Homo sapiens: one gene and its partner. The protein of the gene in region 1 purifies or fractionates together with the protein of each later gene. This does not show direct contact. Each region holds a gene or a part of one and is shown on either strand. Other genes may lie near its edges.

Evidence for each region. The genes of interacting proteins can lie anywhere in the genome.
Region 2: the proteins of PPM1E (region 1) and SLFN11 purify together in Homo sapiens (affinity purification with mass spectrometry; one large-scale study listed by BioGRID and IntAct). This does not show direct contact.

Annotation. Positions count from the first base shown.
Region 1 is NC_000017.11:58,754,628-58,758,745, reverse strand, and holds the start of PPM1E (protein phosphatase 1E), read right to left. Parts: upstream 2,893-4,118; 5' UTR 2,749-2,892; coding exon 2,285-2,748; intron 1-2,284. UniProt on the Homo sapiens protein: Protein phosphatase that inactivates multifunctional CaM kinases such as CAMK4 and CAMK2. Dephosphorylates and inactivates PAK. May play a role in the inhibition of actin fiber stress breakdown and in morphological changes driven by TNK2/CDC42.
Region 2 is NC_000017.11:35,349,768-35,353,358, forward strand, and holds the end of SLFN11 (schlafen family member 11), read right to left. Parts: coding exon 3,569-3,591; intron 3,373-3,568; coding exon 2,589-3,372; 3' UTR 538-2,588; downstream 1-537. UniProt on the Homo sapiens protein: Inhibitor of DNA replication that promotes cell death in response to DNA damage. Acts as a guardian of the genome by killing cells with defective replication.

The sequences.
Region 1 (4,118 bases):
CCAGCCATTTTATATCTGAATAAAAATACATTAACAACTTCTGTACAAAACACAATATAAATGATGAAATCTCTGATTTAAGCGGAAATATTTTCCAACTTTAATTTTGCTAGTTTTATTTCAAATCCAAACTTCTGTTCTCAACTAGATGGCCATTTTATCATTTCAGTTTTTTCTAGTTTATACCTATATCAAAATTAATCTTTTTTTTTTTTTTTGAGACGGAGTCTTGCTCTGTCACCCAGGCTGGAGTGCACTGGCACAATCTCAGCTCACTGCAACCTCTGCCTCTCGGGTTCAAGCGATTCTCCTGCCTCAGCCTCCTGAGTATCTGGGATTACAGGCGCGCGACACCACGCCCAGCTAATTTTTGTATTTTTAGTAGAGACGCAGTTTCACCACGTTGGTCAGGCTGGTCTCGAACTCCTGACCTCATGATCTGCCACCCCGGCCTCCCAAAGAGCTGGGATTACGGGAGTGAGCTACCGCTCCTGGCCGCTTCTATATGAAAAAACACACATCTTCTTGCCATCATCTTTAAATAAGTTAAAAAAAAAAAACCTTCTTACATGGCAAATGTTCAGGGTTGTACTAAAATAATGACCTTATTTGGACACTTTCTAAAGTTTGAATTGGTTTAATTCTGCAAACTGCATTTGTAAAGGTAAGAATTAACTGTCAAGATAGAGCCAGTCTGCTGCTAAGATAAATTCCCTTAATAAACATTTCCATTTTATTTTAAGCAGGGAGCTTTATCTTTAAATACTGTAAAAAATTACATCTCAGAAGCCCTTGTCTATGATAGTTCACAAAGACCAGATATACTCTAAAATGTTAATACTGTTTATCTCTGGGTGGTGGTATTACACGCCATTTTATATTTTACGTTTCTCAAAAAGCATCATTACCTTGCTAATTGACGGTAATACTGTAATTGAACAGTATTTTAAAATTAAATTTTAGATAGCTTATATTATGAAATACCAACACAGTCCACTTCTATGGAAGATTTGTTAAATGATTTTCCCCTATTGATAAACTGCTGCTTTAACAGGAGAATGATCTGATCAGGTGTCTATTAGCTTGGATGAAGACAAAACAGGTTTACTTTCCAGGCCCTTCTTTTCTTTAGGCTTTTGAGAAAATCCCAAAAGTGAGTTTGAACTTAATTACAGCGAATCTTGCAGTAGTAAACTTTTTGGGTGGCCAGAGTAACACCTTTCATTACAACTATCAGCTGAATGGCAAAAGACTTCCCAGGTTTACCAATGTTTTCAGAGACTTACTAGTATTCTCCTCTGTCATTATTTCGGAACAATTCCATTGAGAAACGCAATTGTAAACCGTTTCTATTTCAGGCCTATAAAAACCAGAACTGGGATGAAAGGCAAAGCCTTGACCTTTCTATTTTAGACTTTCATCTGTGTAGCTAAGCCATCTGCTTTCTCCCCACCCCATCCCATCTACTTAATGGACTGAAAATACTGCACCTAATTGCAATTTAATCAAAACAGCCTGACTTTTCCACTTTAATGAATTATGGCTCTTTCACCCGAAGGCTTGCTTGCAAAATTTTGCTTACCCTTCCCTCTCAATTCCTTCCCACTTCCCTCAATTATGGAATGTCAAATGTCTAAACTAAGAGACTAGGCTTCCCTGTGTGAAAACATCTAAAAAGCCCTTCACTTTCAACACTGAGCACCTGACGGAAAATCTACTCCATTCTCTCATCTGGATACGGGGCCGGTATAACCATCATTGTTGCAGTTACGCAGGAGGCACCTCGCAGCTCAGTCTAGAAAGGAGTCGCGTCTCTGCCGCCAAACAACAAGGCACTCAGCCCGGGAAAAGACAGACTGGGGTGGGAGGAAACCTCCCGGAGAAAGAAGGGATCTGGGAAGAAGAGGGAGCTCAAGCCTGGGAGGAAGGACCTTTCCAGGCAGGAAAGGGAAAGGTTGCGTGAAGTGGAGCTAGAAGCTGGGGGCCGAGGTGAAAGGGGATGAGGGGCCCGGGCCCGGCGGGAGGGCGCCGGGGCTCAGGAGAGCGGCTTCAAGGCCGGGTAGGAGGCGTGGGGGCCGAGGCGGGCGTGGGGGCCGAGGCGGGCGTGGGCAGCTCTCAGCCGACCGCCCGGGTCCGAGCAGCGGGGGCGCTTTCAGCGGCGGCAGGCGCGGGTGCGGGGGAGAGGAGCAGAAAAGAGAGCAGTTTGAGGGGCCGAGGGAGCCGCGTCCGAGGCCGGCGCGGTGGGGACCGCGGGCCCACCACCAGCCAAGCCCAGCTACTTAACTATTTGTAGAGCTGCTGCAGGCACAGGTCCAGGCTTTCGCCCTCCACCTCCTCGCGGGTGATGCGCTCTGACAGCGGTCGCGGGAGCGGGGGCAAAGGCGGCAGCTGGGGCGGCGGCGGCGGCACGGCCGAGTGCCCCGGGGCTGCCGCCGCCGTCGCCGCGCCCTCCTCCTCCTCCTCACCCTCAACCGCCGCCTCCTCCTCGGGCTCCGGGTCTTGCTCCTGGTCCCCCTCCTCCGTCGCGGCTACCGTGGCCGCCTCCTCCCCGGGTTCCTCTACCGAAGCCTCGGCCGCCTCAGCTTCTACCAGTTCAGGTTCGGGCTCGGGCTCGGACTCGGGTTCGGGTTCGGGTTCGGGTTCGGGTTCCGGCTCCGGCTCGCCGCCGCCGCACGGTCCGCGAAACTCGCCCAGGAATAGCTCCAGGAAGCGCCGGTAAGTTTTCTCCTCAGGGATGCAGCCGGCCATCGCTGCTCATGCCCCAGGGCAGACCGGGAAAGGGGTTGGGGGAAGCCCAGGAAGGGTAAGGGGCTGCTTTTGAGCCTAGGGCTCCGGCAAGGGCGGTTAACGGCCGCACCGGCACGAGCGATCAGCACTAGGTTGCCTGGAGAGGGCTCCCGCAGGCGTGCGCGCCGCCGAGCACCGACGTGCGCGGCCCGGGGGCGGAGCGCGCCGCCCCTCTCGGATCTGGAGGGAAAGTTGGTGGCGGGCGCGCGCAGGGTCCAGCGGCGGCCCACCCTTTATTCCTACGGAGAGCTCAGCCCACGCTGCCTAGAGACTGTCGCCATGGCAACCGGTTCTAATTAAGCATTGCAGGGTCCCTCCCGTCGAGTCCGCGGAGTCTAAAGGACACTCCACTCGCCCGCTCTCCAACTCTGAATGTCTTTATTGGTTGGATACCCTACCCTCACGTGGTTAAGAGTGAGCTAAGACATCTCCAAGTCTAGCTGTTGGTTCCCACTTGGGTTGCTTGGATCCCAATTGGATGTACTTCCATTTCCTTATCTGTTCCTTGCCTTAGCGTATGTTTTGAAAGATACCACACTGTGAACACCTTTTGTTGCAGTCTTTGAATAAGTAGTTTTCAGGCAGAGGGAGCTTCAAATACCTACCAAGTGATAAGTTCCTTTGCATAGGTTCTCTCTCACTTGATTCTGTGAAGAAAGTGGTGTTACTCTCATTTCTTAAAAGGAAACTGAAAATTATGATATTAATGGTAATTTACTTGTTTCAAGGTCTCCAAACTTCCAGCCTTGGCGTTGGAGAACTCAGGTCGTTCAGTCGCCAAAGCTTTCCGAAAGTGCATTTTTCCTTAACTCAACTCTGTCTCCGGAGATTCAATAGTGCAATTGTCTGTATAACACCTTATTTCTATTGGGCTTCATAGTTTACACATTGATTTCACCCTTTTAATTCTTACCACAGTCCCTTGAGGTATAGGACGTTACCGTTATGATTTTTTTTTTTTTGAGACAATCTCGCTCTTGTCACCCAGGCTGGAGTGCAGTGGCGCGATCTCAGCTCACTGCAACCTCCGCCTCTCGGGTTCAAGTGATTCTCCTGCGTCAGCCTCCCAAGTAGCTGGGATTACAGGGGCCTGCCACCACCCCCGGCTAACTTTTGTATTTTTAGTAGAGACGGGGTTTCACCATATTGGCCAGGCTGGTCTCAAACTCCTGACCTCAGGTGATCTGCCTGCCTCAGCCTCCCAAAGTGCTGGGATTACAGGTGTGACCCACCACGCCGGCCAATTATTCCATTTTATAGGTGAGAAAACAGCCTTAAAGACATGGTGACTTTGCTCAAGGTCACATGCAAGGGATGCAACAAGGACTCAA
Region 2 (3,591 bases), about 23 Mb from region 1:
AATAAAATAAAATAAAATAAAATAAAATAAAATAAAATAAAATAAAGAGGAAACTAAATGAAGGGGACACAGGAACTTTCTGTACTATCTTTGTAACTTTTTCTGTAATTCTATAACTACTCTAAAATAAAAAGTTAATTTAAAATATAAAAACATTTTGTTTCATTTTATAATGGCTGGGTAGATTTTCAGATCTTTAGTGAAGTAGGTCCCAGATGTCTAGAGGCAGATTGCAGAGATGGGCAGGCACCCATCCAAACCCAACTGAGTCTAGTGCACTGGCTCATGCCTATAATCCCAGCAATTTCGGAGGCTGAGGCAGGAGGATCACTTGAGCCCAGGAGTTCGAGGCTATAGTGAGCTATGATTGCACTACTGCATTCCAACCTGGGCAACATAGTGAGATCTTGTCTCTTAAAAAAAAAATTGAAAGTTAATGTTGCTTAATCTTTTACTGGCTCGTTTTGGCCCTCTCACAGAGTCACTGGCCTCAGTCTTCTCCTTTTCCCCCATTTAAGCACTTATTTTACAAGACCATTTTTTTCAGTTTAATGAGACACAAACTCTCAACTTTTTATTTAAAACAGAAATGCAGTAGTAAGCTAAACCTTTTGCCATTCATAGGGAAACAAATATCAGTAATCCTCTTTGTTCTAAACAAAAATTCATAATTATTTATACATTTTAAAATATTATATTGTTTCAAATATTGTTAGTGGGGCAATAAATCATAAAGAGATACAACCAGTCGAAATTAGACTTTTAAAGAATTACTCTCAAAGACATTGCAACAACTCCAAAGTCCAGGGATCTTATAAGACTAATTTATTAGTAACAACATTTACAAAGATAGCTTTTTAATGCTGAGTTGTATCTGATTTAATGCAGTCAGAAAGAAAAAAGAAACATTTATCTCATTTTGCTGATCTGTCAGATTTTGCTTAAGTTAGGAGAGCCTGCAATTTCAAGCCCAGATAACTGGAATTCCATGAATAAACACAGAAAGACAGGAGAAAGGCAAGGAAGTTCAAAAATCACAGTCTGGGGGGAAATCAGTAGAGTAAGATTACCAATAAGTGAAATATTGGTCATATGATTTCTTAGTTTCCATTAGTTATGCAAATATTTTACTGTTAATATTTAGATTAGTGTTTTAGAACGTTTTGTAGAGACTGAAAAGCAAATAAATAATTGCATTAGCATTGTTAAGTATCAGTGTTTTCTGTTTGACAAATAATCGTACAGCTGTGTTCTCAGGCTGCAATAACAAAACACCAGAGACTGAGAAGCTGAAACAACAGAAATTTGTTTCTCACAGTCTGGAGGCTGGAAGTCCAAGACAGAGTCCAAGACTCTCGCCAGCAGCGAGAGTTTGATTGTGAGGCTTCTCCTCTTGGCTTGTAGGTGGCTGCCATCTCTCTGTGTGCTCCCATGCCCTCTTGTTTGCATGCACAGGGAGGGAGGGAACAAGCTCTCTGGGGTCTCTCCCTATAAGGACACCAACCTTAGCAGATCAGAGCCCCACCATGACTTCATGTAACCTTAATTACTTCCTTAGCAGCCCCAGCTCCACAGTGCAGGTTGGGGCTTCAACACGGGAATTTGGGGGTGAAGGGTGGGACACAAACATTCAGTCCATAACAATGGCCCACCAAACCATGAAAGTAAATAGAAAAAAAATCACAGTTCAAGAATAACATAAAACTTAACTAGGTGTGTTATAGAGCAATGCATAGAACTAAGCTGAGAAGTTAAAACATAAACTCATTGATTTTTAAAGACAATCTTTCCCAAGTCTGGTTCACCTTAGGGCTGATACACACCTTCAGAACCAGATTTTGGTCTCTAATATCATCTTCCACTGAAAGCCAGGGCAAACAGGTTTATGTTCATTTCATCTTGGCCTATAATTTCTCCTTAAAGTGACCATTAATATTCACTATCACAATTAAGGCTTGGTCTGGGCCATTCTGAGAACAAGCTCTGGAGACCACAATTTTAAAGGATTAAATAATCATAACGGTATTCTTTGTCCTGACAAAATTATTAATCTGACAGTGACTGAATTATCTTCGGACTCTCCCAAGCCCTAAATGAATACAGCAAAGATAAATGTCAAGAATTCAGGAAACAATTGCTTCTGCTACGGCCAGTAAGCTCCTAACAGACCATGCTTCTGCAGAAAACGATTCTGGACAAATTTTTAAAAGCAACAAACTGCATGAAGTCACTTAAAAAAAGAAGCCCAGCCTTGGAAGAAAGAAAGGCCACAGGCTGAGTTTCTTATTTTTATGGCTTTTACCCAAAATGCAAGACACAGATCGGCATTGTGCAGGACAGCTAAAGTTCCTTTAGAAAACCACCATCTTTCTGGCTGGAAGAGTCAGGGGTCAGAATGGGGGGCAGCCACCGCTGCTGAAAGGGTTGGGGAAGGAACCCCTGAAAGGAGAGCCAGAAATGGGGGAGCTCCAAACTCTTTGTGTCAGCTCCGTCCAAATCTCTGACTTGTGAACTAAAAAGAAAGGTTTCTACCATCAGCAGACTGTCACCCATAGACATTTACATAGCATTTTGATTTGGAGTTCTTCCTAATGGCCACCCCACGGAAAAATATACAGGTGTTGTTTTGCCCTGGAAGCCAGACAGATCAGAACATTGGGTAAGATAGCTGGGTCAGCTGTCCTTGGATGGATCCCAAACACTATGCTCCTTTCCAGGCCTGAGAATCGCCGAACACTGTCCAACACAATGTGATCACCCAACATATCACATGCATCACTGAGCTGCACCACCCTTTTCTTCCTCATTGCTTTCAAGAGCTCATACTTATAGTGCTCCACTTCTTTTGCGGTGCTGACAAGCACAGCAACATCCTTTGGAGAATAGCCCCTATCAAAGAAGCGCCTGCACGTGTCTGCCACACAGGTCATTATTTGCTCCACAGTCAAGTATTTCTTAATTCGTAAGGTTCCCTGAACACCCTGGGACCATTCGGCTTCAGGAAATACCTCGAGGCACCCAGTGGGGATGTTAAATGAAGGATTACTTCTAATTACTTGCATTTCTTTTTGTAAGTACTTGGCTATTGGATCTGCATTGCGAACTATTCTGGTGAGCTCTTCTCTTGGATATTGGTCTGAGAGAGGAGGGAGGCCACTGCAATCCAAGTGGCTGGTCTGAAAGTAATCCAGAAAGATCCAGAGAATTCCTGGGCCACCCTTTGCTCTCCGAGTGATGCTTTTTGCCTTCCCATACCAGTCCCCATCTTCAGTACGGAAATTCTGAGCTTCGTCAATGACGATGTGTTGAATGTGTTCAAAGTTTTCTCTTAGGAAAGTTTTCCGGGTCTCTGCTCGGCAGATATTTCTATCACTGTAAAAATTAAAAGAACACACTCAGGTTTTCTCTAAAAAAACAAGGGGAGAAAATAATTGTATCATGTTCCTCCGAGCACAGTACATTACCACAGATCATTTTACCACTCAATTCTCAAGAAAGACGGTGACTTAGCAGAAAAAATTAAACCCAGATTAAATAATACTTAGAGACGTAAGATCCAACTGCTTACCTGATAAAGTTCCTCAGAGGCTG